Linked DNA regions of Homo sapiens: all the other regions are linked to region 2. Evidence: fine-mapped expression QTL. A gene starts in region 2. Each other region holds a variant in brackets. All regions are shown on one strand. Distances are between the middles of the regions.

What was found. PIP is the estimated chance that this variant, and not a neighbour inherited with it, causes the effect.
Region 1: its variant is the best candidate, but not a certain one, in a credible set for the expression of ABHD14B in Th2 cells (Schmiedel 2018, PIP 0.59).
Region 3: its variant is the best candidate, but not a certain one, in a credible set for the expression of ABHD14B in whole blood (INTERVAL, PIP 0.80).

Annotation. Positions count from the first base shown.
Region 1 is chr3:52,001,695-52,012,426 of GRCh38, forward strand. No RefSeq gene overlaps it. Among named protein-coding and RNA genes, the nearest start is that of RPL29, 11 kb to the left of the region's middle. RefSeq lists an enhancer at 2,775-3,655. The variant C/CA (reference allele first, on the strand shown) is at 7,265.
Region 2 is chr3:51,970,733-51,979,124 of GRCh38, forward strand. It overlaps ABHD14B (abhydrolase domain containing 14B), which reads right to left and starts at 3,317. Exons shown (of 4, transcript NM_001146314.2): 1 at 3,233-3,317; 2 at 728-966. The coding sequence starts at 938. ABHD14A-ACY1 (ABHD14A-ACY1 readthrough) reads left to right here and starts at 4,332. Exons shown (of 17, transcript NM_001316331.2): 1 at 4,332-4,472; 2 at 7,139-7,350; 3 at 7,527-7,642. The coding sequence starts at 7,215. ABHD14A (abhydrolase domain containing 14A) reads left to right here and starts at 4,332. Exons shown (of 5, transcript NM_015407.5): 1 at 4,332-4,472; 2 at 7,139-7,350; 3 at 7,527-7,642. The coding sequence starts at 4,404. RefSeq lists enhancers at 2,506-3,442, 3,476-3,655 and silencers at 2,886-3,035, 3,256-3,425, 4,256-4,635, 5,241-5,535.
Region 3 is chr3:52,014,203-52,024,934 of GRCh38, forward strand. No RefSeq gene overlaps it. Among named protein-coding and RNA genes, the nearest start is that of RPL29, 24 kb to the left of the region's middle. RefSeq lists enhancers at 827-1,706, 1,382-1,451, 4,530-5,292, 5,293-6,055, 9,728-10,107. The variant C/T (reference allele first, on the strand shown) is at 3,784.

The DNA of each region.
Region 1 (10,732 bases), 32 kb after region 2:
CGGATGAAGTCTGGTGCTGCAGGTGGGCTGTAGACAGGCACCCGCTCCCCTCCGGCGGGACACTCTTGCAGCCTCCCAGGCCTTTCACAGCTGCGCTTCTCAGCACGCCCCACCACCCCCACCTCCAGATTCAGTGCCTGTCTATTTTGAACAGGTTCTCTAGGCTGGGTCAGGTCTCCCTCAGCTCCAAGTTCCTGGTGGTGGTGGTGAGTTGTCTTCCCCCAGAGAGGGTTCAAGGCAGAGGAAGTAGAGCCTGTGGGCATCCCTGGGCACAGCCCCTCCTGGCCCACTTTAGACTTACCCAAGGGCGATGCCTCTTGTGGGTTAAAGGAACAGGCTTTGGCATCAGACAGACTTGGTTTTCGATTCTGACTGCCACTCACCAGCAGAGCATCTTCACCTCTTGGAGCCTGCCTGCCACAGTGGAGGCGAGTAGCACCAGGGCTGAGGAGGCAGGAAGCCTCCCAGAGCCTCGCTGTGCATTTGGGAGGCCCGCGGGTTTGATTGTGAGACCGCACAGCAGCCTTTGGAGGGGGTATGGTTTTTATCACCCCACTTCACAGGTGGGGAGATGGAGTCCTTGGGCATGACTGGCTAGAGGTCCCACAGCCAAATGGAGAGCTACTGCAGTCCAGGCACCTACCAGAATCTGGGGGGGCACGGGGTGGTTTGTACCCAATGAGGCCATGGAGGGGGCCTTGTGACAGTGACTGCCATGTGACGAGAGAAGCCCGTGGCCTTTATGGCCAACGGATGCCCAGAGTGAGGGCATCCTCTGTGCCAGCCCCTGCTTCTGCCAGACACACCTGCCACATCCAGAGCAGGCCTACAAAGGAGGTGGTAGTGTCCTTGGGTGGAGGGCAGGCTGCTGCCTGAGCAGGCCTGGGCTGGGGTCAGTTGGCCTCAGGCAGCCAAGGACTGGCCAAGTATAAATGGAAGAAAAGTCCAGCAGCACAGAAAACCGACCTGCTAGGAAGGATGGGAGGGAAGGGATAGGGTAGGTGGGTGACATGAGGGTGTTGGACAGGGCTGGATGGAAGCCCGAAGTATCTCTCCCCACTCCTGTTCCCAGCCACAAAAGGAGGCTACGGAGATTCCCTTTTAACAAAGAGCATCTGAAAAGGAAGAATGAAGCTGAGGGTTGGGAGGGACACCCCTCTCCTTTCCCTCCCCAGCAGGCTCCAATGGCCCCAGCAATGTCGTTGCCTTGGCAACCACAGCCCCCTTCTAGCTCCCTTTCTCCTTTAACCCCATCCTGCCTGGATGCACCTCTCGCCTGTACCCTCCCTCCCTCTCTTCCCAGCTCAGACTAAAGAGAGACTTGGCGGGCTGGGGAGAAAGGACTTCTCTGCTCACCAAGCAGTCCTGGGGTTAATGCCCTGGCTGCATCCCAGGACCGCCCCTTCCTAGGGATCAGATGGACAACTCTTTAAGATGGAGACAGGACAGGACGAAATGACCTTTGAAAGAATTATTCTGAATGAACAAGGGAGCTGTCTTCTCCCAAAGATTTCAAGCCCCAAGTCTCCCAGTCCTCACTCCCTCCCAGGAGACAGAGGCTGTGACCCAGGAGCCCCTGGCGGAGTTTAGGAAACAAGCGCTGGAGCAGGGGGGTTTGAAGATCATCTAGTTCCCCTCTCTAAGCCAATGGGTGGGGAAACTGAGGTCTAAGAGGAGGAGGAATTTACTCAAGGGCACACAGTGAGTATTGGAGAGTCAGGGAGGGAACCAGAGAGGCCTGAGCCGGGATGAGGGTGGAGGCTGCATTTGCTACCGTTGGCCCGAGGAGTGGCTAGGTACAGAGGGCCACAGGAGACCTGCACCCCATGGGAAGGCAGTTGCTGATGTTTCTCTCCTGAGTCCAGAGAAAGCCCCTGGCTGCCCTCACCCACTTTTGTTCCCTGAGAGGTGCCTGCCTCCCTACCATTGGTGTTCCTGGGTTTCCTAAACTTAGTGCTTCAGTAACCCCCTCCCAGGCCCCAGCGCAACATAGGCTAAGGAAGGAGAATGAGTTCTGGCCCTGTTTAGGGCGGCACACGGGACTCTAGCAAGATCAGAGAGGAGCTAGAATTCTGAGAGGGCTGGGGATTCTAAAGGTCCCATTGAGAGTGTCCCCTGAGCACGAAGGGCTTGTGGCTGCAGGCAGCAGGTTCTGGCCCAAGGGCAGCCCTTTCTTGACTGTGTCCCTGGCAAGTCACTCAACTTCTCAGAGGCTGCTAAATGGCCCAATCCCACCTCCACGTAAACAAGGTCGGCCACACAGGCTACACAAGATTCCCATGAGGCGGCAGACACAGAGCTATGGACAGGTCCTGGGAGGGGGTCCCAGCCCCAAACCTCTTGTATCTGCTGTGCCAGGGCTACTGCCATGATCACTTGGAGCACCTACGGTATGCAGAGCCGGGGAGGCTGGGAGGGGAGGAAGCTGTGGGCACAGCACCCCTAGATGTAGACCAGAGAGGGCTCCATTCAAGCCAGGCCAGCAGGCTCCAGAAACCTTCTGGGGTTGGAGGAGCGCCCTGGGAGCCTCCCTGGAAGATGAGGCAGGCCCTGTGCGATCAGGTGGAGGTGGAGAGAACACAGTGGGCTGGAGAGGGTGAAGGTTGGCATTTGCTCTCATAGCTCTCCCAGCTGATCCGGACCTCCCTGAGCTGTCGCTGCGACCCTGAAGACCCCAAGGCCTGGCCGGAAGAGGGTGCTCTTGCCTTTCCCGCACACAGCCCAAGTCCTGGGCGCCAGCAGAGAAAGGGGCCTGCTGCTGGGGGCTGGAGTCAGGAGCTTTGCCTTTATTGTGGCTGGTTCTCACCACACCCTCAGAGTGTCCTCGCCTGTTAATCCCACGTTGCAGAGGAGGAAACAGGCTCAGAAAAGTAAAGCGACTTGCCCGTGATCACCCAGCTTTTTCTCCCCATCAAAGCCGCTCCTTGAAACTCTCCTGGGCGTGGACACTGCCTGAGACTCTTACACTCAGGTGGGAAGTGTGTCACCCAAGTGTAGGAAGTGTCATCCCAAGATGACAGCTTGAGAAAAGGAAGGGGACGCCTACCGGAAGGAGTGACCCTCTGGTGGACAGTGCTGAGGTGTCCATGGAAGGTGGGGACAGGTGCTAGGAGACTCGGGCCCACCTCATCCAGCAGGCGTCCCCCTGCAATATTGCATTTGTTAGTCCCTCTTTCTACATCGGCCCCATACCCACTCATTAGTTCTTCAAATTCTCAGGCACCCCCTCAGCAGGCAGCCACTGGCGAGGGCTGGGGAGCACGGTCCAGACCTGCCTGGATGCCAGGCAGCTGGGTGACCTTGAGCAGAGACTCAACCCCAAGGCTCAGCTTCCTCATCTGGGAGAGGGGGAGCAGGGCATCACTTACTTGGCAGGCTGTGGTGGGGATCCAGGGACCTGTTCATTCCGAGCACCTACCAGGGCCTGGCCTGTGGACATTGCTCAGTCACTGGCTCACCCAGGCACTCCTCAGCCCTGGTTAATCCCCCAGCCACCTGCCTACTCCTGTGCCCACCTGCGGCTTTGGTCCCCATTTCCCAGTAATCCTCAGGGCCAGGTGCTGGCAGTCAGGGGGTCAGGGTTGTCCCTGCCCACCCAGCAGGTCTCCTAGGACAAGGCTCAGATTGGACAGATGACCAGGCAGGCAAAATGGGGGTCCTTCTCTGCCCTCCCCAATCTCCCCTGGTGGGCAGAGGCTGGTGGGGACAGAGGCAAAGAATCCCGCCCAGAGTGGGGATAAGAGAAGGGGATGGCTCTGCGGTGGCCCTCCTCCCCGTGGGCAGGGCTGCTGGGGACAGGGTCAGATGAGGTTGGGCTGACAAGCAGCTGCTGAGCGGTGGCAGTGAGGGACATGTGGGGACCCCCACCACTCCTAACAACGCGGCACCAGTGCCTAGGAGCCAGCGGGTGAGAGGCCCACGGTCCTGGCTCTGCCTGTCTCAGCGCCTGCTGCCTGCCTGGCACAGGGCCCTTGCAGCACTGGTTTTAATCGATCACTCTTTCCGCAAGCAGCTCCTGGAGGTGCGGGGGTGGCTTCCCCTTGACTCCAATCTCCTGGAGGATGCAGCTTGGCTAAAAATAACTTGAATTACTGAGCTCCCACCCTGGCGCAGAGGAGGGGCCTGGGGGCTGCGGGGGCGGCGCCTGGAGGGAATGTTGCCGCAGCCAGGAGGGGGTTCCCTGACAGGAAGTGGAGAAGAGTGAGTGTCGGCAGGTGGGAAGGAGTGCAGCTTGTTGAAGGGAGGCTGGCCCTTTCTCGCCCATTCCTCCAGGCTCAGGCCTGCTCCCTGGGGACAGTGCTTCTTGAGAAAACCTGGGGAAGGGCTGGCCCTGACCCCTGCACTTGCATCACTGAGGGTAAGTGGCCTGGCTGCAGCGGGGGTGCTCCTCCCAGCACAGACACCGGATTTGGAGGAGACTCCCCCTGTAGATGCTCTGGGCAGGAGCCTCCTCCCTGCCCTCCCACAGGGCACCAGAATGCAAGCCGTGTTGGGCATCAGGCAAGAGGAGTCAGGTCTGGTCTCATGTCCTGTTCCTTCTGTGTGACACTGAACTCAACTTCCTTATCTGATAACTGGATGCAACTGCAAAATCAAGCATTTGCCTCCACCCCCATTCTGCAGGCAGCCTCTCATCTGTCTGGAGCAGCAGCATCAGGCTCCCTGTCACTCACTCCCAACCGCCTTGGTGCCTGCAGAGGGGGCAAGTCCCGTGACCACCCTTCAGAGCAGAGTGGGTGTTATGCCCAGGTTGGGCAGGCAGGACCTGGGTCTCTCGAGGTGCAGCAGGGCAGGTCAGGGAGAGTGGGGACTCCAGGGCCTCAGGGAGAGTGGAAGGTGACTTCAGGGCCCAGGCAGAAGCCTGGGGTCAGGTGGCATGGTAATAGTCCCAGCTACTTGGGAGGCTGAGGCACAAGAATCACTTGAACCTGGGAGGTGGAGGTCACTGCTGCCCCCCTGCCATCCCCATCTTCATACCCCAGGGCCAGGCCAGAGCAGGATGCTGTACAAGCAGTTCAAGGGCAGGTCCAGGGCTGCATGGCGGAAGGGGGACAGGATGGCAGTCCCTTGCATGTGCACGGAGGCAGTGGGGACATACTGGTGTTGGACCAATCTGTCCTGCAGCAGGGAACAGGCTGGGAGCTCCCAGCCCCCGCCATTGCCTCAGTTCCCTCATCTGTAAAAGAGGTCTGGATTAGATGCTCTCTGAAGTTCCTGACAGCATCTGGGGAAGATGGAGCATAGATAGCAGCTGCCCTTGGGAAAACAGCAACAGCTACGACTTCAGCTTCCCTGCCCTTCACTGAGCACCTCTGGCGCTGAGATGCTCTGTGAGGACAGCACTGAGGTTATCCCCCATCACACGTGAGGAGACCGAGGCTCAGAAAGGGGGACTTGTCTGAGGTCACATGGCTTGGACGTGATGGGCTGATTTTGAACCCGGCACTGTCCAACTGCAGTCTGTTTTCCCATTCCATCCTATTCTAAACATAGGGCCTGGGGGATGAGACGTGCTTTTGGGGGTGACTCAAGGTGGGGTGCAGGGGCATGGATCCAGATAGAAGTTCCCTACAGCTGTGCCCCCTCCCACACCCCCTCCCACCCCCACCCAGGTTTGGCTCAGGTCACAGGGAGCCTCATTCTGGGGCACCAATGGGACTGGGAAGTGGCTGTGCTTGCGGGAGGTTGGGAGGAGAGGAGGGAGTGTGAACCTGCTTGAATGGGAACAGGACCAGTGATAATAATAATGACAATAACTCCCTCCCCCGACCCCAGAGACATTTTTAGCAACACTGTTCCTAAGGAGAAACTCAAATATCCGGTGACAGGCAAATTGAGAAATCAGCTGCAGCTCCGACAGCAGCATGGGTGAATCCTGAACCATCATGTGGGTGAAAAAGCAAACTGCAGGAGACTACATTCAGTTCAAAGCCATTTTTATAAAGCCCCCCTGAAGTATAACTAAATGATATAGTTTTAGGAGTTCAGGTGTGTATGATGACAGAACTATCTGCAGGCTAGGAAGTGCTAAACCAAAATTTGCCATACTCGAGGAGAGGCAGGAGCTGGATAGGGAGACCCACACGGGGGACCCCACCCACGGACACCTGCCACAGGCCCACAGGGTGCCGGGCACTCTTCATGGTGTGGGGAGATACAGGCATGAGCAAGGCAGACATGAAGCCCGGGCCTTGTGGAGCTTATGGTCTAGCAAGGCAAGTTCCGTGCCCATTCTGTGTTGTATGGTAGATCGCAGGTGTCAATTATACTATTTTGCACTGTCTGCATTGTCCGTTACAGATATTCTTTTTTTTCTTTTTTCTTTTGAGATAGAGTCTTGAGACAGAGTCTCATTCTGCCACCCAGGCTGGAGTGCAGTGGTGCCATCTTGGCTCACTGCAACCTCCGCCTCCCAGGTTCAAGTGATTCTCCTGCTTCAGCCTCCCGCATAGCTGGGATTACAGGCATGCACCAGCATACCTGGCTAATTTTTGTATTTTTCTAGAGACAGGGTTTCACCATGTTGGCCAGGCTGGTCCTGAACTCCTGACCTCAGGTGATCCACCTGCCTCGGCCTCCCAAAGTGCTGGGATTACAGGTGTGAGCCACCACGTCCAGCCACAGATATTATTTTATTTTATTTTATTTTATTATTTATTTATTTATTTTTTGAGATGGAATCTCGCTCTGTCACCCAGGCTGGAGTGCAGTGGCGCGATCTCGGCTCACTGATAGCTCCGCCTCCCGGGTTCATGCCATTCTCCTGCCTCAGCCTCCCGAGTAGCTGGGACTACAGGCGCCCGCCACCACACCCTGCTAATTTTTTGTATTTTTAGTAGAGACAGGGTTTCACCATGTTAGCCAGGATGGTCTCGATCTCCTGACCTCGTGATCCACCCGCCTTGGCCTCCCAAAGTGCTGGGATTACACTCATGAGCCACCGTGCCTGGCCTGATATTCTTTTATATTAATCAAATACTGTATTTAGTCCAGGAGCAGTGGCTCACGCCTGTAATCTCAACACTTTGGGAGCCTGAGTTGGGTGGATTGTTTGAGCCTAGGAGTTCAAGACCAGCCTAGGCAACATGGCAAAACCCAATCTCTACTAAAAATACAAAAATTAGCCAGGTGTGGTGGTACTACATGTCTGTAGTCCCAGCTACTTGGGAGGCACAAGAATCACTTGAACCTGGGAGGTGGAAGTCACAGTGAGCCAAGATCGCAGCACTGCCCTCCAGCCTGGGCAACAGGTAAGACTCGGTCT[C/CA]AAAAAAAAAAAAAAAAAAAAATATATATATATATATATATATATATATATATAAAAAATACTACTGTTTTATCTGTTTAAATACTATATATATAATCTGTTTAAATGCTATATATAGGCCGGGCGCTGTGGCTCACACCTGTAATCCCAGCACTTTGGGAGGCCTAGGAGGGCGGATCCCGAGGTCAGGAGATCAAGACCATCCTGGCTAACAGGGTGAAACCCCATGTCTACTAAAATAAAAAAAAAAATTAGCGGGGTGTGGTGGCGGGCACCTGTAGTCCCAGCTACTCAGGAGACTGAGGCAGGAGAATGGCGTGAACCCGGGAGGCAGAGCTTGCAGTGAGCCAAGATCGCGCCACTGCAATCCAGCCTGGGCGAAAGCGAGTCTCCGTCTCAAAAAAATAAATAAAATAAAAATAAATAAATAAATACAATATACATCTGCACACACATATATATACTATAGTGTGTATATGTGTATACACATATATACTATAATGTGTATATATACCATATATATAGTATATGTGTGTGTGTGTATATATAGTATTTGGTATTTAAATAGATTAAACAAGGAATAAACACAAACTTAATTGACCTTCTTCTCCCCAGTAAAACATCCCACCCAAGTGGGTGGGTTCTGGGGGCTGAGCTCCTCTCCCTGCTACCCCTCATGGATATCCCATCACACTCAGCTAGAGGGGGTGCGAATCCCAGATCCCTTCCCCCCTCTCAATCTCCCAGCCCGACTGAATGTCCCACAAAGTTATTCTCTCATTTACCAGCAGGTAAGAGTCAAATATCGTTTGGAGTGCTAGGCTGGAAAGTGGGACAGAGTTCCCTACCTCTGGGAGCGCCAAAGTCATTTGGAAAGATAAAATGCAAGAGAAAGACGTGCAGGGTGGCCAGGCACGGTAGCTCACGCCTGTAATCCCAGCACTTTGGGAGGCTTGGGTTGGCAGATCAGTTGAGGTCAGAAGTTCGAGCCTGGCCAACATGGTGAAACCCCGTCTCTACTAAAAATACAAAAAATTTAGCTGGGTGTGGTGATGCAAGCCTGTAATCCCAGCTACTCGGGAGGCCAAGGCAGGAGAATCGCTTGAACCCAGGAGGCAGAGGTTTCAGTGAGCCGAAATCCCGCCACTGCACTCCAGCCTGGGCGACTGGGCGACACTCCTGGCAAACATCCCTCTCCTGGTTCAGTGCTCTTGCACTATATTAATAGTGATAGAGAGTACAGGAGATGGGAGGTAACACGTATGACCTGTCTCAAGCTGTTCATTCCCATCAAAGGCAGGGGGGTCAGGAGGGCTTAGTCTGCCATCCATCCATCCAACCATCTCCCCATCCATCCAACCCTCTATCCATCCATCCATCCATCCATCCATCCATCCATACATACATACATACATCTATCCATACATCTCCCCATCCATCCAACCCTCTATCCATCTGTCCATCCATCCATCCATCCATCCATACATACATACATACATCTATCCATACATCTACCCATCCATCCAACCAACCATCTATCTATCTGTAATAGGCAGACTAATGTCCCCCAAAAGATGTCTCCATCCTAATCCTAGAGCCTGTGATTATGTTACTTAACATGGCAAAGGGGGATTAAGGTTGCAGATGGAATTAAGGTTGCTAATCATCTGGTGTTAAAATAGGGGGATTATCTTGGATTATCTGGGTGGGCCCAAGGTAATCATATGGGTTCTTAAGAGGAGAAGAGGAACCACAGAGATGGCAGCATGAGAAGGACTTGGTCTTACATTGCTGGCTTTGAAGATGGAGGAAGGGGCCACAAGACAAGAAAAAATGACAGCCCCCAGAAGCTGGAAAGGCAAGGAGGACATGGATGCTCCATTAGAGCCTCCAGAATGCAACCCTGCTGACACCTTGATTTTAGTCCAGTGAGACCCCTTTCAGGTTTCTGACCTCCAGAATTGTAAGATAATACATTTGTGTTGTTTTAAACCATGAAACTTGTGATAATCTGTTACAGCAGCAATAGGAAACTAACACAGCAACTAACGAGCCAGCCCTTCATGCAACCATCCACCCAACCACCTATCCAACCATCCATCCAACCATCCATCCAACTGTCCATCCAACCATCCATCTAACCATCCATCCAACAATCCATCTGTCCATTTAACTAACTAACCACCCATTTAAGAAATATTCATTGACCGTCCCCCTTGTGTCACCTGGCAAGCTGTGAAAAAAAAGTGGGCAAATTACTGAAGCTCCCCACCCATTGGGAGCAATAGATACAGGATTTCAATCCAGGATCCTCAATGCTATGATGGTAGAATATGAAGCACTTGGGAAGGATTATGGGAGGCTTGATGGCTTTTGGTGGCAGGAACAAGGCAGGGAACGCTGTAAAACAATTGTGAGTCCCATTGATTTTTTTTCCTTTTTCTTTTTCTTTTTTCTTTTCTTTTTTTTTTTTTTTTTTTTTTGAGACGGAGTTTTGCACTTGTCACCCAGGCGGGAGTACAATGGTGCGATCTCCAGTCACTGCAATCTCTGCCTCCTGGGTTCAAGGGATTCTCCTGCCTCAGCCTCCTGAGTAGGTGGGATTATAGGCACCTGCCACCATTCCCAGCTAATTTTTGTATTTTTAGTAGAGACAGGGTTTCACCATGTTGGCCAAGCTGCTCTCGAACTCCTGACCTCAGGTGATCCACCTACCTCGGCCTCCCAAAGTTCTGGGATTATAGGCGTGAGCCACCAAACCCATCCGATGTTTTTTTCTTTTAATTTTTTTTTTTTTTTTTTTTTTTGAGACGGAGTTTCGCTCTCGTCGCCCAGGCTGGAGTGCAATGGTGCGATCTTGGCTCACTGCAACCTCTGCCTCCCAGGTTCAAACAATTCTCCTGCCTCAGCCTCCTGAGTAGCTGGGATTATAGGTGCCCACCACCACGCCCAGCTAATTTTTGTATTTTTAATACAGACCGGGTTTCACCATTTTGGCCAGGCTGGTCTCGAACTCCTGACCTCAGGTGATCCACCCACGTCAGTCTCCCAAAGTGCTGGGATTACAGGTGTGAGCCACCATGCCCGGTGAATTTTTTAAAATTTTGAATAAAAAAAGCCAACAATTGTGAGTCTCTGCAGCCAGCTCCTCACCTGAAGGCTGCCCCTTGAGGCCACTGTCCCTTGCTACCTCTTTCCTCACCCCCGTGTACCTGGAACTCTTTGCCTTGTCCAAGGAGTAGGGCAAGAGGCCTGATCCAACCAGGATTTGTCCTCCTGTTGTGACTTCTGCCTCCTGCTCCTCAGCTTAGGCCTCATGCCTGCCATACTTTCTGCACAGCCCTGAGGCTCTGAGGTTCACTCTTGCTGCCACCTAAGCCACCAGCCCATCAGTTAGCAGTGAATGGCCATGACACCCACATTCTTGGTACCAGTGAGGAGCACCTGCTCAAGGGTTAGGCTGAGCCT
Region 2 (8,392 bases):
AGCCAACCCACCATTGGAATCAATCCTGCCTGGGCAGGAGGCTCGCCCTTGAGCCCTGAAACCATACCATCCCTGGCCTGAGGGGGTGGGGCCAGCCATGCTGCTCCTTTCACACCTGGCACCGAGGGTTGGGACCCAGCCATCTGGGTTATGACAGGCAGTCTGGGCACTGATCCCATCTACCCTAGAACCCAGCTCAGGGCTTTGCATGTGGGATCACAAGTGGGGGCCTGGCCACCCACCAGGCCCTGCCTTGTCCCCCAGAAGACTCAGGTCTCACTCCTTAGGGCTTCCAAAAGCCTATGGTTATTATTCAGTCAAAATACTTTACTTCCAATTGGCTGAGCACCGATTACTCTGTGTCAGGTACTAGCCACATACTCACATGGATTATCTCATTCCATTCTCATTAGAGCGAGCCCAAAACATGAGTGTGGTTATCTCCCATTGCAGATGAGGAAACAGAGGCTCAGAGACACTGAGACAATGCCCAGGTAACAGTGAGGAGCAGCTGGGCGGTGAGGACCACATCTGGATCAAGACTGCTCAGAGGCCCTTGCAGTGTGCTTGACCAAACGCTGTCAAGTTCAGGGCCCAGCCTGGCTGGGTCCTCCAGATCCCACCGCCCCCACCCCTGGAGTGGGGAGGGGCTACATGTTATAGGAACCTGGCCCTGTCCCTAATGAGACCTCCCCAAACCCTGCCCAGAAGCCTGCCCCTTAAGTACCTGGCAGGTCAATGGCCACAGCCCGGTAGCCAGCCTGGGCCAGCCTGTGCAGTGTACCCAGGTTCTGCCAGGTCTCGGAGGAGAAGCGAATACCATGCAGCAGCAGTACAGAGAAGCGAGCCTGCCCACTGCCGGGCAGGGCCTCTCGGAAGAAGAGGGCCTGGCCCTGCACCTGGATGGTGCCCTCGCGCTGCTCCACGCTTGCTGCCATGCCTGCTGCTGCTGTGCTGGTGAAGGGCCTGTGGTTCAAAACCACGATGATGAGGGGCCACAGAACACCCTGCCCAGGGTGGCAGTCCCAGAGGAGCAGCAAGGAAGCCTCCAGGAGGTTTCCAGAACTTTAAGAACATGCCTTGGGGTCAGGAGGACATAGGTGTTATTTCTGCCTCTGCCATTTACTTTAGTGTGTAACCTGGGGCCTCAGCTTCTTGATCTGAAATATGGGAACAATAAAGCCAACTTCAAGAATTAGCAATTTAATTAAAAGTTTAAGAAAAATTATCGGCCAGGCATGGTGGCTCACGCCTGTAATCCCAGCACTTTGGGAGGCCGAGGCGGGTGGATCACCTGAGGTCAGGAGTTCAAGACCACCCTGGCCAACATGGTGGAACCCCGTCTCTACTAAAAAGAAAAAAAAATTAGCCAGGTGTGGTGGCACGTGCCTGTAGTCCCAGCTACTCAGCAGGAGAATCGCTTGAACCCGGGAGGCAGAGGTTGCAGTGAGCCGAGATCGTGCCACTGTGCTCCAGCCTGGGTGACAGAGTGAGACTCGGTCACAAAAAAAAAAAAAAAAAAGAGCCAGCTGATGGTCACATGTAACTCTCATTAGGCCAGGCGCGGTGGCACACGCCTGTAATCCCAGCATTTTGGGAGGCCGAGGCGGGCGGATCACCTGAGGTCAGGAGTTCGAGATCTCCCTGATGAACATGCAGAAAGAAACCCCATCTCTACTCAAAATACAAAATTAGCCAGCTGTGGTGGCACACGCCTGTAATCCCAACTACTTGGGAAGCTAAGGCAGTAGAATTGCTTGCACCCAGGAGGCAGAGGTTGCAGTGAGCCGAGAACGCGCCATTGCACTCCAGACTGGGCAACAAGAGAAAAACTCCATCTCAAAAAAACAAAAAACAGAAAAATTATCAGTGGGGGTGCCTGCTGTAAAACCTCAATATGTGGTGGGGCTCCATTACAATTACTGTTCTTATTCTCATCGTTATTATCCTTTTCTATAAATGGGGATAATTCAATAGTACTAGCTCATAGGTGGTTGATAGGATTAAATAAGGCCATGCATGTACCATGCCTAGCACGTAGTAAGGGCTCAGTGCTCAATCAACGGTAAGTTACAGGTCATGAGTTGTCAATGCAGGCCAGAGGGAGCCCAAATTGGGGTAAAAAGCCCATTTTATTTTATTTTATTCTATTTATTTATTTTGGGACAGAGTTTCACTCTTGTTGCCCAGAATGGAGTGCAGTGGCATGATCTCGGCTCACTGCAACCTCCACCTCCTGGGTTCAAGCGATTCTCCTGCCTCAGCCTCCCGAGTAGCTGGGTTTACAGGCGTGCGTCACCATGCCTGGCTAATTTTTTTTTTTTTTTTTTTGAGACGGAGTCTCGCTCTGTCGCCCAGGCTGGAGTGCAATGGCACATCTCCGCTCACTGCAAGCTCCGCCTCCCGGGTTCACGCCATTCTCCTGCCTCAGCCTCCCGGGTAGCTGGGACTACAGGCACGCGCCACCACGCCCGGCTAATTTTTTGTTTTTTTTTTTTTAGTACAGACGGGGTTTCGCCGTGTTAGCCAGGGTGGTCTCGATCTCCTGACCTCGTGATCCGCCCGCCTCAGCCTCCCAAAGTGCTGGGATTACAGGCGTGAGCCACCGTGCACGGCCTAATTTTTATATTTTTAGTAGAAACGGGGTTTCATCATGTTGGCCGAGCTGGTCCGGAACTCCTGACCTCAAGTGATCCACCCACCTTGGCCTCCCAAAGTGCTGGGATTACAGGCGTGAGCCACCGCGCCGGAACTAAAAGCCCATTTTCTTCGGTTTTTTTTTTTTTCTTTTTTTTTTTTTTAAGAGAAGATGTCTCGCTCTGTCGTCCAGGCTGGAGTGCAGTGGCGCAATCATGGATCACTGCAGCCTTGACCTTCCTGGGCTCAAGTGATCCTCCCGGCTCACCCCCAGTAGCTGGAACCACAGGCGCGCTTCCACACCGGAAAGCCCATTTTCTAGAGGCGGAAACCGAAGCGCCCAGTGGGAAAGGCGACCCGCCGGGGATGCGGGGTGCTCAACGCGCTGCCACCTGGGGCCCAACGCGTTGACCTCGCGGTCAGGTTGCTTCCGCGGACTACGGTTCTGGCTCGCTAGCTCTGGAAGGGAGCACCGGGAGGGAATGGTGGCAACTCCCAAGGAGGGGACCCAGGGATCCGAGAAAGGAAGACTTGGGGTAGGTGGGGTTGGATTTTGACTGGAGAGAAGAAAGGGTCAGGAGTGCAGGGCGGGTACCTGGGGAGCTGCGTGGACTCGCGCAGACGGGAAGCAGGCGCGTGCTGGCGGTGACCTGGGGCCGGAGGAGGAACGCTGGGAAGAGGCCGGGCCCCATCCAGCGGGGGCGGGGACTGGGCCGTGCTCCGGGGCGCCCTCTTGTGGCCACAAGCTCGCAGCGTCCATAGACTCCGCTAAACTCGTTCTCACAGCGGCGTCAGTTTCCCAAAGCCTCTCGGTCTCACATGCCCCAAACGCGGTGCTGAGCACGGTTTCGAACTCTTCAGCGACCTGCCCCACATGGACATGGAGCAGTCTGAGGAGGAAAGTTCCTTCGGGATCGCATCCTTGCTGCTGTCTTCCTGCTCCCCATCCCCCTTATCCCCAGCTTGAACTGCCCAGGGCAACTTGTTGGCCTGGCACGGAGTTGAGGCCCGACAGGTTTGAGTGCGAGGCTCCGCCAGTGTCCAGCCAAGTGGCCTTGATCGTTTTCCCAATGCCCCCGAGCCTGTTTCCTGCCAGTAGAGCGGGTCAGATGTTGCCAACCTCTGCAGAGTAGCAATAAGCAGTAAACGCCACGCTCTGCACAGCCTCCCAGTGCTGGGCCTGGTCGCCACGCGGAGCCTTGGGCTGGGACAGGCCAGACGTTGGTAACACATCGCCAACCAGGGCAGGCGCCATGAGTAGACGTGAACGAGCCCAGGGCCAGCCCAGGCTCTGACCGTGGGTGTGCGTCGGGGAGGGGGTGGGGAGGAGTGGGTAGGAGTCAGGAAAGTGGGTCGGCCAAGACCTGGAGCTGCTGCATAACAATATCTGGCATTTACACAACGAGGCCTCTGCTCCGGACACTGTTCTGAGGCTTGACCCGTCCTTAAGAACCTAGGACAACCCTGTGCGGTGGGTTTTATCCTTAACTCCATTATACAGGCCAGAGAACTGAGCCAGGGTGGAGATGTTCCACTGAGAAGAAGCCACATGGCTCTCCGCCGGCTCTCAAGCCAAAAACAGTTCCGAAAATCTGGGCGGGGAGCGGGCCAGAGAGCGCTGGGGCTCTGCCCCCAGCACCCCCTCCACGCAGACGACTCGGTAACTGGGTTGCAGGCCCGCGGCTGCGGAGTGCGCAGGCGCGCCGAGATGGCCGCGCTCCTGGCCGCCTAGAGCCGGAGCGGCCCGCGGAGCTGCGGAGGCAGCCATGGTCGGGGCGCTGTGCGGCTGCTGGTTCCGCCTGGGCGGGGCCCGCCCGCTCATCCCGTTGGGCCCGGTGAGTCTCCCGGGGGAGGGAGGCCGGCCGGTGGCCCAGGGGAGGGCCGTCTTTACCCCGCCCCTTGCCCCGGCGCCCCGGGGCAGAGTCCCGCGGAAGAAGCAGACGCTGGGGCCGCGAATGTGCATGTGCGCGCGTGTAATGTGTGTGCGCGCGCAGGGTCTGCATATGTTCTTGGGGGTCTGGGTGTATGTGTACGCTTGTGTGTCTGCATGGTGTCCGTCAGTGGGTTTCTGCGCGCTTATATTTTTGGGGGGGGGGTGTGTTCGTTGATGTCTGCCTGCTTGTGTCAGCGTTATGTCTTCCGAGTGTATTTCTGTGTGCGTGTGATTTTAAGGGTATGTGTCTACCTGTCTGCGTGTGTGCATTTCTGGGGGTTTGTGTGTGTGTGCGTGTCTGCTTTCCTGTGCATGTGCCTTTCTTGTGTGAATGTGTAGTCTTACGGTTGTGTGTATGACCGTGCTTGAGTATTTCTGAGGATCAGCCTGTGGTTTTCAAAGTGTGCATCTCCATCAGTCTCTCTGGCTTCCTGATGCCTGACTGTGTGCGTGATGTAGAGGGTACCATTACAAGGGATTAATTGCACACGGGCCAGTGTGTGTGCAAAGAGGCTGCATGTACATGCAGGGAATAGCTTGTGCAAAAGAAAAGCGTGTGGGGGCAAGACTCGTATTTGTGCGTGTGTGCACCTGTGTGTCATTGTCAACGCATATTCCAATGACCTAACCCGGGCACAGTTTACCCTGCCCCCCGCAAACCCCCGCAGGCGGCCAGCTGCAGGTCCACTACAATTTCCTAGTACTGCGGGCACCCTCGGTTGCCAAGGCAACAGCCTAAGCCCCGCCCTTCCCGCTTTGGAGAAGCGCGGGGGCGCCCCGAGTGGGCAGCAAGGAAATGTCCCTCGCGCCCGGTGGGAATCTGGACTAACGCCCAGTTAGAGACGCGCGTCTGAGGTTGTTAGTGGTCTGGAAGAAAAGAGGAACGCGCTCTTCCTCCACTAGGTCCTGGTTTTCCAGAAACAGCAGAAAGGCGGCTGCTGCTGTGGCTCACAAGCCCCCCGACCCCGAAGCCTGGGGATGCGGGCTCAGGAAACATCCCCAAAACATCCCGGAGGGATGAATAGGAACCAAGACGGGCCCCCGGCTCCTAGTTCGGGCAGGCGCCCAGTTGGCACTCAATAAAGATGTGCTGGCCCGGCGCGGTGGCTCACGCCTGTAATCCCAGCACTCTGGGAGGCCGAGGCGGGTGAAACACGAGGCCAGCAGTTCGAGAACAGCCTGGCCAACATGGTGAAACCCTGTCTCTACTAAAAAATACAAAAATTAGCCGGGCGCGGTGGCGGGAGCCTGTAATCCCACTATTCGGGAGGCTGAGGCAGGAGAATTGCTTGAACCCGGGAGGCGGAGGTTGCAGTGAGCCGAGATTGTACCACTGCACTCTAGCCTGGGCGACAGAGCAAGACTCCGTCTCAGAAAAATAAAAATAAAATAAAGATGTGTTTGCTGGACTCCTGGAAGGAAGCAGGCGTGCTCATCCTAGGCCCAAGAAATGACAGGGACAGCCCTGATCCAGTCCACGGTATTATCTAAATCTCACAGGAAGCTTAGGAGGGCAGCCACGAGGTTATCCCATTTTACTGACAAACTGAAGACACAAGGTCAGGAAGTGGCAGTCTCAAAGGCCTGTCCTGTTTGAGTCCTGGGTCCTAAGGGCTGTCCTCTGGGGTGGCAGAGACCCCAGATTGGAGGAGTCCACGAAGCAGTCATTTGGCCAGAAGCTGTCTGTGTGTAGGATGGGGAGTAGCAGGCGGCATTCATCTCTCCAACCTCTACACTGTGCTTTTCATTTCTGGGTGTACCATGCTCCTCCCTGGCCCTGCAGCCCCTCACTCCTCAGCATTTTCCTCTATTACAAGACATTCTCTGTGAGCCTCTTCATAACAGCTGGGTTAGACCTTAGTTATAATGCGATTGTAAAACGCGTTCTGATTTTAGCAGTATTAAATGCAGTGAGATTAAAAGAACCATTTCCAAACATGCCCTTAAGTGGGAGGTCCCTTTGCGCGCAGTCTTTCTCCTTTGATAGCCCTCATCACTTTTTCCACCTGCAAGGCTCCAGTTCATCCATCATCTCCCAGCTCCACGGGTTCCTCCTTGGCAAACCGAGTGTGGCCTGGTAGTTAGAAGCCCATTCCTAGGTTCAAACCCCAATTCCCCCACTTGCTACTTGGCACTTTGGGCAAGAGAATGTACCTCTCTGAGCCTCCATTTCCTCACCTATAAGAGACCTATAATCACGTCTGCTCCCCAGCATTCTTGGTGGAAAAGAACCTTGTATGTGAAGTGCCACACTCAGGGCCTGCTGTCATAAGCGCTTGATGAACGGAAGTGGTTTCAGCTGATGCCATGATGGTGGCGGTCACTGAGCATGCTGTGTGCCAGAGAACACCTCAGATGCACCTCCTCACACTGTGAGGTATCTGAGCGCTTGCCCTGGCATGTGGAGTAGTTGAGTGTGAACTCCCAGAACTTTGCCCAGAGCAAGGGAAAGGGCAAGGGCTGGAGCTCTTCCTCTGCTGGGGACTCTGGGTGGGGTTTTGGGATGGGATCCAGGGTCCTTGTAGGGACTCAGTTCCAGCCTCTTTTCCCTCTCCTCTCCCTCTCCAGACTGTGGTACAGACCTCCATGAGCCGGTCCCAGGTAGCCCTGCTGGGCCTGAGTCTGCTGCTCATGCTCCTACTGTATGTGGGGCTGCCAGGCCCCCCTGAGCAGACTTCCTGCCTCTGGGGAGACCCCAATGTCACAGTCCTGGCTGGTCTCACCCCTGGCAACTCGCCCATCTTTTACCGCGAGGTGCTCCCACTCAACCAGGCACACAGGTAGGTGCTGCTCCAAGGGTCTAGTGGAGGGACTAGGCTCAAGGGGAGTCCCTGTGTGGGACCCCCATTATACTCAGGGTGCTCAGGTCCTGGGAGGGCAATGGGAGAAGCCTAGGAATAAAGAAAGGTGGGCTACACCAGGTTCCCAGCAAACACATTCCCCTGTGTGCCTGCAGGGTGGAGGTGGTGCTGCTTCATGGAAAGGCCTTTAACTCTCACACGTGGGAGCAGCTGGGCACACTGCAGCTACTGTCACAGAGGGGCTACCGGGCCGTGGCCCTTGACCTTCCAGGTGAGCACCCCCACCCCTTTGTCTAGGGAAGCCTTAAGTGTGGCTGGGAGGCAACTGGACCCTAGGGTCTGGACAGGCCGTGGCAGGTCACAACATAAGGTGGCACCATGAAAAAGTCTGTGTTTTCATTTTCTACTATGAAAACTACAGTGTGAATTCTAGGTCATGGAGCAAATAAAAACTCTTCACAAGCAGTATACTTTCTTTTTTTTTATTTTATTTATATATATTTTTTGAAACAGAGTCTCGCTCTGTCACCCAGGCTAGAGTACAATGGCACAATCTCGGCTCACTGCAACCTCCGCCTCCCGGGTTCAAGCAATTCTCCTGCCTCCGCTTCCCCAGTAGCTGAGATTACAGGTGACTGCCACCACGCCTGGCTAATTTTTGTATTTTTAGTGGAGATAGGGTTTCACCATGCTGGCCAGGCTGGTCCTGAACTCCCGACCTCAGGTGATTCGCCTGCCTCGGCCTCCCCAAGTGCTGGGATTACAGGTGTGAGCCACTGCGCCCGGCCAAGCAGTGTACTTTCTATGGCAAACCATATAGGTTTTGTGTTTTTAAGTACACAAATGATTTATGCTATCATTCTTGTCATTAAAAAAATGAAAAAATGTCGAGTCATAGAGGATTAAAAAATACTAAAAAATAGCAAAGCTCTGAGAGACTGGTGCCGCATTTCTCTCCCTCTCTAAGAAGTTTAGGGGATGCCACACGCTGTTCTGGGTATTCCCACATGTAAAGATGCAG
Region 3 (10,732 bases), 45 kb after region 2:
AATCCATACAACACACATTTATAAGGCATCCTCTGTGTGTCAGGTGCCATGAGCAGGTGAAAACCTGCCCTCAGAGGTTGCAAAGGTGTAAGCATGGGAACAATCTCATAAGAACAGAGAGATGAGAGCAGGGTGTGTGCAAGCAGGATCCTGGTGTTGTGCAGGGTACAGCTTGCCCTAGTGGACAATGATGATGCAGCAGAGGTGGACCCAGAGACGACCAGGCAGTTGGGGCTCCAGGTTGGGTGCACACGTGTGCATGTGTCACAGGACTCTGACTCTGGGGGCTGTTGGTAGAAGCCTGGAGGCCCCATATCCCTGCGGTAGTCGCCACACTACAGCAAAGTAGTGTGTTTGACAGGAAATACCTCGGCAGCCATTGCAATTTAGGTTGCAGAGCACAGAGCAGTTGCCCCCGCGATGGTCAGGAAGCCCAGACCAGCAGAAAGGGGTGGAGAGAAGGGACTTCACCTGCTCTGCCCTCAGACTCTGCTCCCAGCTTCTGGCCTCAGGCTACACCAAGCCCCAGGATCCAGTGCGTGCATTAAAGGAAGTCCGCAAAGCCTTCCTGGCCTTCTTATCAGGGATGGCTTTGGGAAGGCGTGGGTTGGCAGCAAGGCCTCTAGGGGGCCACCCTGGAGTTAGGCTTAGGGACGAGGGGGTAGCGTGACTTTTTTGTGGCAGCTCTCAAATGCTGGTGTCCAGCCTCCCAGTGCAGTCCCATCTCCTTCCTGTCTCTAACCTACCTCGTTGTGGTGGCTTCATCTCTGGCTGGGCCAGAACCCCACTGGAAGACTACAGTGGACACCTCTCTGAGGCCCACTCCAGCCAACTGGGTGGGTGAACTCAGCTTAGTCTCTTGACCTCTTTGGGCTGGGAGTACCCTTCTGAGCAGGTACCTTTGGGCCTCCAAGTCCCCAAGGGAAACAAAGAAAGGGACTTTCAATCCTAGCACAGAACCAAGAAAGGAAACAGGTCAGGAAGGAGGTGGCCAAGGTACTTCTTGCATGCTGGACCTTGATGACGGGAGGCCCCACATCCCACATCAGCCTCCCTCTAGACTCCAGTGTGTCCACCCCACTCCCTCCTGGGGTAGGGCCCATCTAGCTGCTTCCAGCCAGTTGCCTGGTGCATGGTCGGTGCTTGCAGAGGGAGTGCCCTGCCTCTCTGTCTGTGCTTTCTGTAGGGGAGGATCCACTTTCAGACCCTCACACGCCCTGTTCCTTCTGCCTGGGACAGTGTACACCTCACCTGACGGAGCCTAAAGGTCACTGCCTCTGGGAAGCCTTCCAGGACCACTTTAGTCAGGCCAGGCCCTGCACGCTTGTCTTGCTTTGTCCAGCTCCATCTCCTCTTCTGAGTGAGGGGACTCCCCAAGGGCAGGCCTGGGCCCCCAGCATGCCCTGGGCTGTGCCGGGGCTCTCAGGAGAGCTTTTAACTTCCTCTTATCTGCCATTCCTACTCCTGAACACAGTCTGCTATCTTTCCCCTGGAAGAGCTGAGCAGGAGGGGAAGCAGCCACTTCACCTCAGCAAGACCTCTTGGATGCCGCTTTCTGGGTTTTTGCCACTCCCCTAGCAGCCATCTTCCCTGAGGGCTACCAGGGCTTCGGGCATCCATCTCTTCTCTTCCAGAGCTACCTTCTGCAGGAGAGATCGTGAGCAGGAAGGGAACAGGGCTAGGAAAGGGGGCTGGGGGCTCCAGGGGAAGATCCCTGAAAGACACACTGCACCCCAGCTGTCTGTCCCTGCAGCATGCGATGGAGGCTGGGGGTGGGGGATGGGGGAGATGGCAGGGGCTGGTCCTCGGTCCAAATCCAGGTCACTCCCAGCCTGTTCAGCAGCCGCTCAGTAATTAGGGGCCAGCAGGACGTGGGCAGGCAGGTGGCAGGAAGCCTAATTGTCTGATTTTTCAGGTAATTAACAGGCGGCTGTCTGGCCAGTCCCCACGGGGCCCAGCATCCGCCACCCCATCCCCTGGGCAGCCCTAGGTACCTAATGAGGCCAATTACTGAGTGGTGCCCAGGTTCTCATTAGCCACCTGGAAAGGTCATGTGGGACTGGCACCGGGGGGCAGGGCTCAGCCAGCCATGGTGGAGGCTGGGCCTCTCCCCGAGAAATCGGGGTGCAGCATGGACAGGCTGCTGGGCTCTGCTGCTGCCTGTTGAGGGGTAGCCCGTCCGACAGCTGGGACCTCTCTTCACAGCTCCCTTTTCAGGACAGCAGCTTTAGGTCAAACGCCAAACTCCCTTGCCACCTCCCAGCCATGTGGACTTGGGTATGTCAAGCCCCAATCTGGCCCTGGGATTCCTGGATCAGAGATGATGGACGTAAAGCCCAGTAGGTGCCCCGCACGTGGGTGGGCACTCACCTTCCAACAGTGCCAATTCCTGTCCTGACTCTACTTGTGAGGAGCAAGAGGACAGAGGGGATAGAGCCTGAGGTCACCAACATGTCAGGAGCCCACTCTGCAGGGCCCTGGAGGCTGAGGGCAGCAGGGACAGCTCCCTGGGATTCACCCCAGGGGACCTCAGCACCTGGGTGGGGAGTCTTAGGAGGGGTCAGTAGAGGTGGCCAGACCAGGCTGGGGGTGCTCTAGAAATGGCTGGACATCCAGGGCATCTGAGCTGGAGGAGGAGGGGAAGCAGGCAATCACCAGGAAATGAGGGGATTCGGAGACCATGGTGGAGCCCTCCCCCTCCCTGGGTGCTCTGGGACATGTAGTGAAAGAGCCCGGAGTCCCCACGCTCCTGTCCGAGGCAAGAGCTCGTTTTGTCTTGGTCAATTCTCGCCATTTTCAGCCCAGGAAATCAGGGGAGGTCTGCATCCTAGGATGTTGAGCCTTTTGGGCTTCTGTGGCTCTTCTGTTTTAAGAATTTTGTGACCTAATTCCATGCTGACAAATTCCATGCTGTTCCGGCTTCTGTAATTGTCAGCTAACGCTACTTTTGGTCCTGCTGCTGGCCTAGAATCTAAGTTAAGGGTTTCCAAAATGTGTCCCCCAGGAGTTCTTGGGTAGAGGCGGAAGTGAGGGGTGAAGGGATACCTGACCCCACAACTGAAGCAGCTTGCCTTTGGTCACTGGGAAAATATTGGTAGCTGCCCCTTTGTGAGCTCTTGCCTTGTGCAGGAAATCCGTCTCTATGGTTGTGTTTTGTCTTCATAAAACCCCAAAAGGAAGATAACATCACAGTCCCATTTCCCAGATGAGGATGCTGAGGCTATTCCAGGCTAAGGCTGAGCAGCTTGCCTCAGGTCTCAGAGCTTATAGGAAGAGCCGGGACTTGGATCCAGTTTCCACTCTGAGCCACCGGGAATATGGGTTCCTTAGAAAAAAAACTAGCTGCAGGGTTGGGGATGTGTGTGTCACATTTATCTAAACTTGTTTCCTCCAAGTCGGGGTGTGGACGCTGGCCTCTCTGTCCCAGGGAAGCGTGGTTCTAGTGCCAGGTCACCCAAGGACCCCTGCATCCCGCCACGCAGTGTGGTGTCTGTGTGTTTGAGGGCCCGTCTGCCTGTTTCCCTTCCCTCTGCTGTGGGCTCTGCTTTGCTCACGGTCCAAACCAATAAGATCCAGCCCAGAAATAGCATATGTTTCCAGCCTCTGCTCCTCCAAGTCATACATCGCCTGGTGTGATGTGTCCCTGTGTCAGCCTGCTTCAAGACTCAGGGCGGGGGTGGCTGAGGAGGGAGTGTGAGGAGCACGCAGGGCCACCTCCAGGTTGAGATTTAGAGGTGAAGAGCCGGGTGAGCCCAGGACACAGCCTCAGAAGGCAAGTGGGGA[C/T]CAGTATTCCCTAGGCCTGGGGCCGGGTTGGGGGCTCAGCCTGGGTTGGGAGTCAGAGGTTGATGGCCCAGATTCATCCTGGGCCTAAGGGTTGAGACTTTAGAAACTAGCTGGGCACGGTGGCTCACGCCTGTAATCCCAGCACTTTGGGAGGCTGAGGCGGGTGGATCACCTGAGGTCAGGAGTTCGAGACCAGCCTGACCAACATGGAGAAACCCCATCTCTACTAAAAATACAAAAAATTAGCCAGGCGTGGTGGCGCGTGTCTGCAATCCCAGCTACTCAGGAGGCTGAGGCAGGAGAATCGCTTGAACACGGGAGGCGAAGGTTGTGGTGACCCAAGATCGTGTTATTGCACTCCAGCCTGGGCGACAAGAGCGAAACTCCGTCTCAAAAAAAAAAGAAACTAGAGTTGGGGCCCAAAGGTTTGGGCTTCAGTCTTGTCTAGCAGTCAGAGGTCCAGACTCAGCTTGGAGTTAGGAGTTAGAGGGCCGGGTTCACTGTTCACCGCAAACTGACCTTTGACCCTGACTCCGACCCCAAACTGAGCTTGGACCTTCATCCTCGTCAGGACTCAGGCTAGTCCCAAAGGCCACGACTGCCTGAGGAAGAGGTCCCCAAAGACCCAGAAGCCTTCCTATTTTCTGGAGACGACTCAGAGCAGGACTGGTAACAAAGAGATGCCTGAAAAATGGGCGTCTAGGGCTTGGACATGACCACGCACAGGGTGGTAGCCAGGTGCGGTGGCACGCGCCTGCAGTCCCAGCTACTCAGGAAGCTGAGGCAGGAGGATCGCCGGAGCCCAGAAGTTTGAGGTTACAGTGAACTATGACAGTGCCACTGCACTCCAGCCTGGATGACAGAGCAAGACCGTGACTCTAGAAAGAAAGCAAAGGGCTTGGACCGAATCTTGTTCCCGAAGGCCTCCAGCCCCGGCTGCCTGCCTGCTCCCAGGGTGTGCTTCCCCTGAAAACTTGGCTGCTCATCTCTGAAATGTGGGTGATCACAGCACCCACCTTCACGTCGATCACGCTCCCTCTGGGTTGCCGATTTCTACCCTCAAGGCTGTAGCCTCGAGGGACCAGGGGTAGCTGAGATATTAAGTGCGGATGAGTGTTTGAGGCGGGTGTGTGAGACACCTAGCGTGGGTTCGTGCCCCTTCCCTACCTCCACGGCATGGGGGCCTCAGGGACGGGGCTGAGCCAAGGCTGTAGGTCCCCAGTCACAGCCCAGGGCCCCATCACTTCCCAGGCTACCTCCAAGAGGTAGCCCTGCGGCCTGTTCAGGCCTCATATGTCCCACCTGAGCAGGGGACAGGCAGTACTGTCCAGGGAATCTTTTCCAGGCCTCCATTCGGCCAGCTGGGTTTTCCCGCCTCTTCTCCATTCTGGGCCCAGCGTGGAGAGACATTTGGGGACCAGCCCACATGGCGGCCAGTGGAGGAGCCAGGGTGGAGTAAGCAAGCAGGAATGAGAGGCCAGCGGGCAGCGGAAAAGGGTGCGAGGGGGAAGCCTTATCACAGGCTTCTCTGTTCTCACCTCCCACGGGGCCTGGTCACAAACCGGCCTCAGGCACCAACCCACAACTGGGGCAAGAGGTCTCCCCTCCCCAGGGGACCACAGGAAGATTCAACCAAGGGGGAAACCAGTCCTGTGTGAGGGGCAGAGGGGTGGGGGCTGGAGGAGGAGAGCACCCCTGGGGGACAGCAGTGGTGGAGTTCAGAGCCAGCAAGGGAGGGGTGGACGACAGGGGGATTGCTCTGCTGCCCAGCATGGGAGGCCTCCAGGGTTTGGCTGTCAAAGTCCCGGTCACCTCCTCCAGCTGAGCTATTAATACCCAGCTACGACCCACGCACCCTTGCTGGGAGGACGCCGAGTTCCTCAGGGAGCTAAAAATGGTTTCCCATGGGGGCAGGCAAGCCCTCCTCCCTCTCTTCTTGTCAGAGGAGCTAAGGCCAAAGGCCAGGCTGGCTTGGAAGGGGACGGGGCCAGAGTGGAGGGGCAGAGAGAAGCGGGTGGCTGAGGATTCCAGTTGGGAGCAGGAAGGCACTCATCCAGTCCAATCCCCATTGCTCAGAAACCCGAGAGGGAGGGGGCTTGCCAGTGGCCCGTTCCAGGAGGGGACCACACCAAGGTCTCCTGGCTCCTTGCCCCCATCCGGACTTTCTCCTTTCCCTCAGGTCTTCGTTTGGGCCTCCCCAGGCTGCAGTGGGGCTGGAGACTGAGGACTGCCTGTCACCTCCTGCCAGGAGGGGCCTAGAGGAAAAAAGGGGGCTCCAGGGAGACGTTTGGAGCCTCTGGTAGGAGCTGGGCTGCCTAAAGCATGGCCACTTATGTTTCTGTTTCATGTGCAAAATCTTGTTTATCCACAGCATTGTCTGAGAAGGGAATTACTGGCAGCACCATTTTACAGATAACAAAATTGAGGCTCAGTCATCTCCCCAGAGCTTGAGCTGGAAGGAGCCAGGCTGCCTGACTCCAGACCCTATCCTGTGTTGCCTCCTGTTATGGGTTATTGGAAAAGGAGATTTCCTGGTGTGTTAGCCGGGGGCCCACGAAAAAGGTGTTTCCATCCCAATGTCCTGGTCATCACAGTGTCCGGGCCCACTGAGGGGCATGGACCAAGAATGAGGAGGCTGCACGGGTGCCCTTCTGCATTGACCAACCCTCCTGCCTGGACCCATTGGCCACTTCTTTCTCCATTCCTGGGGCTCAAGGGCACATCCTCAAGGCCTGTGCTGGTCTTCTGGCCTCAAGGCCACCCAAGGCCACCTGTTTCCTGCTGTGTCCTTTTTTCTCATGGCAGATGCTCTAGGGTCCAGACATAGACCCCAGAAGAGTGCAGACTTGGCCAGCAGATTCCAGACAAGAGAGTGGCTGACAGAGGTGTCAGCCCCAGAGGTCCCCCCGTGCTGGAAATCCCGACAGCTGCCTGGCTAATAGATCCTGGGTACCAAGCCCTGACCCCGGGCAGCCAGCGGCCGTGTCAGGGGTCCAGAGAAGTTGGGGGAGGTGATGGCTGGAGCCAGGGCAGTCTGCCTGTGGTTAGCGAGGCCGTCAACACCTTCTGGGTTGCCAAGGCAGAGTGGGGTAGGGGTCTGGGAGAGGGGTCCTGCCCTGGCCTGGAGAGAGACAGTCTCTGGCCTGGCCTGGAGGTAAGGGTAGAGGCAGCTTCTGCCCTAAGGGTTCTGGGAAGGCTAAAGGATGTAGGCTGAAGGAGACCTGGCTCTAGCTTAGGAATGTAAGGAGGGAGACAGGCCCCTGGCCTTTGGAGCTGGTAGAGGGGGTTTATTTCCTAATGGCTGGTGGGGACTGGGGTGCTGAGGGGTTGTCTCAGACTGACTTCACTTCTCCATCCAGGAAATGAGCTGGCCTAACTCTGCCTGGATTTTCCTCAGCCCCTGGGGAGGGTCCTTGCCTTTGAGCTGGGGTAGGGAGAGACTGGCCACCCTCAGAGACCGGGTTCCAAAGGAGCCTCTCCCGGGATGGGCCCAGGGTGGCTGCCACCTCCTACCTGCTCCCTTGCCCCCCATGCCTTCGGTTCTCCTAATGTCCTAACATCCACATGCTCTCCTGCTCTGGGGCCACTCTCCAGGCAGTCTTCCTAGATTGATACAGGCTGGGAGGAACCATGTTCCCAACGCCCAAAGCAGGCCTGGAGCACCCCTGCCTGCCCCTGCTCTTAGGAACCCTCCCCAGCAAGGCCTGGCCTGAGGCCGTGGGCCTCCACCTTCCTTTTCCTGTTCTTTTCTCGGTGCTGCCTCTCTCCAGGCTGTCTCCTACACAGCAGCCCTCTGGTTCTCCCTTGTGTCTCTCCATCTTGTTTCCCTGGGTTTTATCTTTGTCCCTTGGTTTCAGACTCAGACCCGGCTGTGTCTCTGGTTCAGTCTCCATTCTGCCTCTCTGCCTCTGCAGTTGGACTGGTGACTCCCTGTCCCCTCTCTAGCTCTGCTTGGCTCTCTCTTGTCCTGTCTCTGATTATCTCCACCTCTTTGTCATTGTGACTCTGGAACCCTCCCTGCCTGGCCAGGATGCCTGCTCAGACATCTGCTCCAACTGCCACGCACTGGGCCCCATGAAGAGCTTAGGGGACTTGTAGTCTCAGCTCTGGCCCAGTGCCAGGGGAGCTCCTGTGATTCCCAGGAGGCAAGCGAGGGAGAGACGAGACAGAGGGCCGCGTGCCTGCTCTGCTTGTCCCTTGGGGAGCCTAATGATGCTGGGCCTCCCCTTGGTCAGGCCATTGGCCATGCCCCCCCACCCTGGCTCCCAACTCCCAGCACCACATGGCTCATGGTCACCCCCAACGCCCCCACTATGGCTGTGTGACCCTGGATGAGTTTCTGAGCCTCAGTTTCCTCTTCGACAGAGTGGAACCAATTCCAAGGCCAGCTTCAGCAGGCATCAGAAGGTTAAATGTCAATGCACATGGCAGGCATCTGGCACTGTGCCCAGCATGCTGTGGCGCTCAGTAGAGTCCCCGTTACCATCACTGTGGCGGTTATTCTTCAGGATCCCCAGAGCCATGGCCAGTCGGATGGGGGCTGGGTGGAGCCTCTGCTGCTTGTCCCCATGTGCACCCTGCGTCCCACGCCCGTCCTTCCTCTGCTGGGCAGTAGACGCCCCCACAACCTGGGACCTGCCTGTCTTCGGAGCCAGTCTGAATTGTACACAGTGATGCTCACCCAATTAATTTTCACTGGCTTGGGGATATATTTTTTTTAAGAAGACATTTTTCCAGGGGGAAAAACACGCAGGAGCTATAATTAGTTGGGAAGAGGAAAGAAGAGCGGAGTGTGTGAATCACCAGCCCCAGTGACAGACTGTTGGAGCCGAGCAGAAGTTTCAAGAGAAGCCACTGGGTTGTGGGTGAGTTGGGGTGGTGTGTCGTGGGGATGGCGCGCTGCCGCAGGCAGGCTGGGGTCCTGGAACACCAGGTCCAGGGATGGGCACCTTCACCCCTCACCCTGAAGAGTCTTTTGCCCCGCCTCTCCCCAGACCCTGTCACCCGACACCCTATCCCAGCGTTCAGCTTCCCTGCAGCTCCTGTCTGCCCTGACTGACCCCAGGACCTCTCCCCTCCCCAGTCCTTGCTGACACAAGCCTGAGCAGAGAGACTAGCACTCAAATGAGGAGAGAGAAACTGTAGAGGATTTGAGCTCCAGGGTTTGGAGACTGTCCAGTCCAACTCCTTATTCATTCATTCATTCATTCATTCATTCATGCATGCATGCATTCATTCACTTAGTCATCAAATACTGAACTACTGCTCTGTGCCTAGCCCACAGACAAGCAAACTGAGGCCCAGGGAAGTGCCAGGCCTTGCCCAAGGCCATACATCTGTGAGTGGTGCAGCCTCTCTGCCTGTCCGTCATCACTAGCTCTGCTGAGCCAGGCCCTGGCCAGGGCTCTGACCACCAAGGTGACCACAACTGGAACCCACTCTCACAGAGCCCCTATCCCAATGGGGAAGCAACCAGGTACCTGTTAGACAAGGAGCCTGGAGGTAGTTCCTGACCAGCCTGGTGGACATGGAGGACTTCCCAGGGGAGGAGGAAAAGCAGCATGACAGCGGCCATCATGCTGGGAAGGACCTTAAATGACTCAGTGTGCCTAAGCTCGGGGAGTGGCAGGAATTGGGGTCAGGGTTGCTAGAGAGTGAGGCTTCTTGGACCAGGTCATTACAATGCCCATTTTGCCCACATTTCTCCTGAGCTCCTGCCTGAATGGGCATGACCTGCTGGCCAGGGGCACCCTGGGGCAATGCTCACCATGTGGACTTGGTCCTTGGAGACCCTCCACTAGTTCTTCCTGATGCCGGGAGCACCAGTCAGTCAGTGGACCGGACAGTCAGTGACCAAGGAGTGTGGCCCTGGGTTTCTCCCTCCCTCCTTCTCCCCTGGCTGAGGACCGGCTGCCTGACTCTCTAGGGGCCCCAGCTCAGGCCTCAGGAGGGAGCACACTGGAGCAGTGTGGCCTGGAACTGAGAGCAGAGGCCCCAGGTCCCCAGGGAGGGGATGCTTCCTCCCCTGGGAGAGCGTGGCATCATTCGGCACACAGAGAGCTCCCTTCTAACCCCAGACCAAATTAGCCTTCCAAATTATAGGCTGCGTTTCCTCTAAATTGGAGACTGGGTGGGAGAACAGAGGCCCGGCTCTCCTTCCTGCTTCCTGTTCACAGAGGGCCCTCAGTTGGTCTAGTCCCAGATCACAGGACCACATTCAGAAAGAATTCAGGACACACACACCCTCCTGCCCCTCAGTTCAGGGATCCCCAGGTCCCAGACCAGCATCCAGGGCTCAGGGGAAGCCTGTACCCTTCTGGGGTTTGACAACGAACTTAGAGCCAGCATGGTTCAGATAAGGCCAACCCAGAGTTCTGAGGTCATTTTCCGGGGGGAAGTCATTCATTCAAAAAACACTTTCTGGGTACATTCTCTGTGCCAGGTACAGGACAGAATGAGAAGGTGCACAGGTGGCTGTGGGAATGCCTGGTGAGGTTAGGGAGGGCTTCCTGGAGGAAGAGGCATATAAACTGAGACCCCAAAAAATGAATGTGCTCTTGGTGAGGGGAAGAGAGGGGAAGACAATTATAGGAGGAAGGAGCATTGAACGAAAATCCCAGGAGCAGAGAGTGAGGGAGTGGGCATCAAGAAGTGGGTGGAAACATTGGTTTGTCCAGATTAGGGGGTGGGGAGGAGTGTCAGTCAGCCACATTGGGAGGATTGCATTTCATCAGGGAGGAGGCCTTTGAGCAGGGGTGAGGGGGTGGGGGGTGCTGTGCAGAAGCAGGGCTGGACCCATTGCCTGACCCAAACAGAGGGCTCCTTGGGATCTCTCACACTGGCCTCCCTTAGGCCCCTTCCACATGGCCTCAGGCCTTTGGAGAAATAATTAAATTTACTTCAAGGAAAACATGGGACACGGGTTTTATTTCACGTGACCTGAAATGAA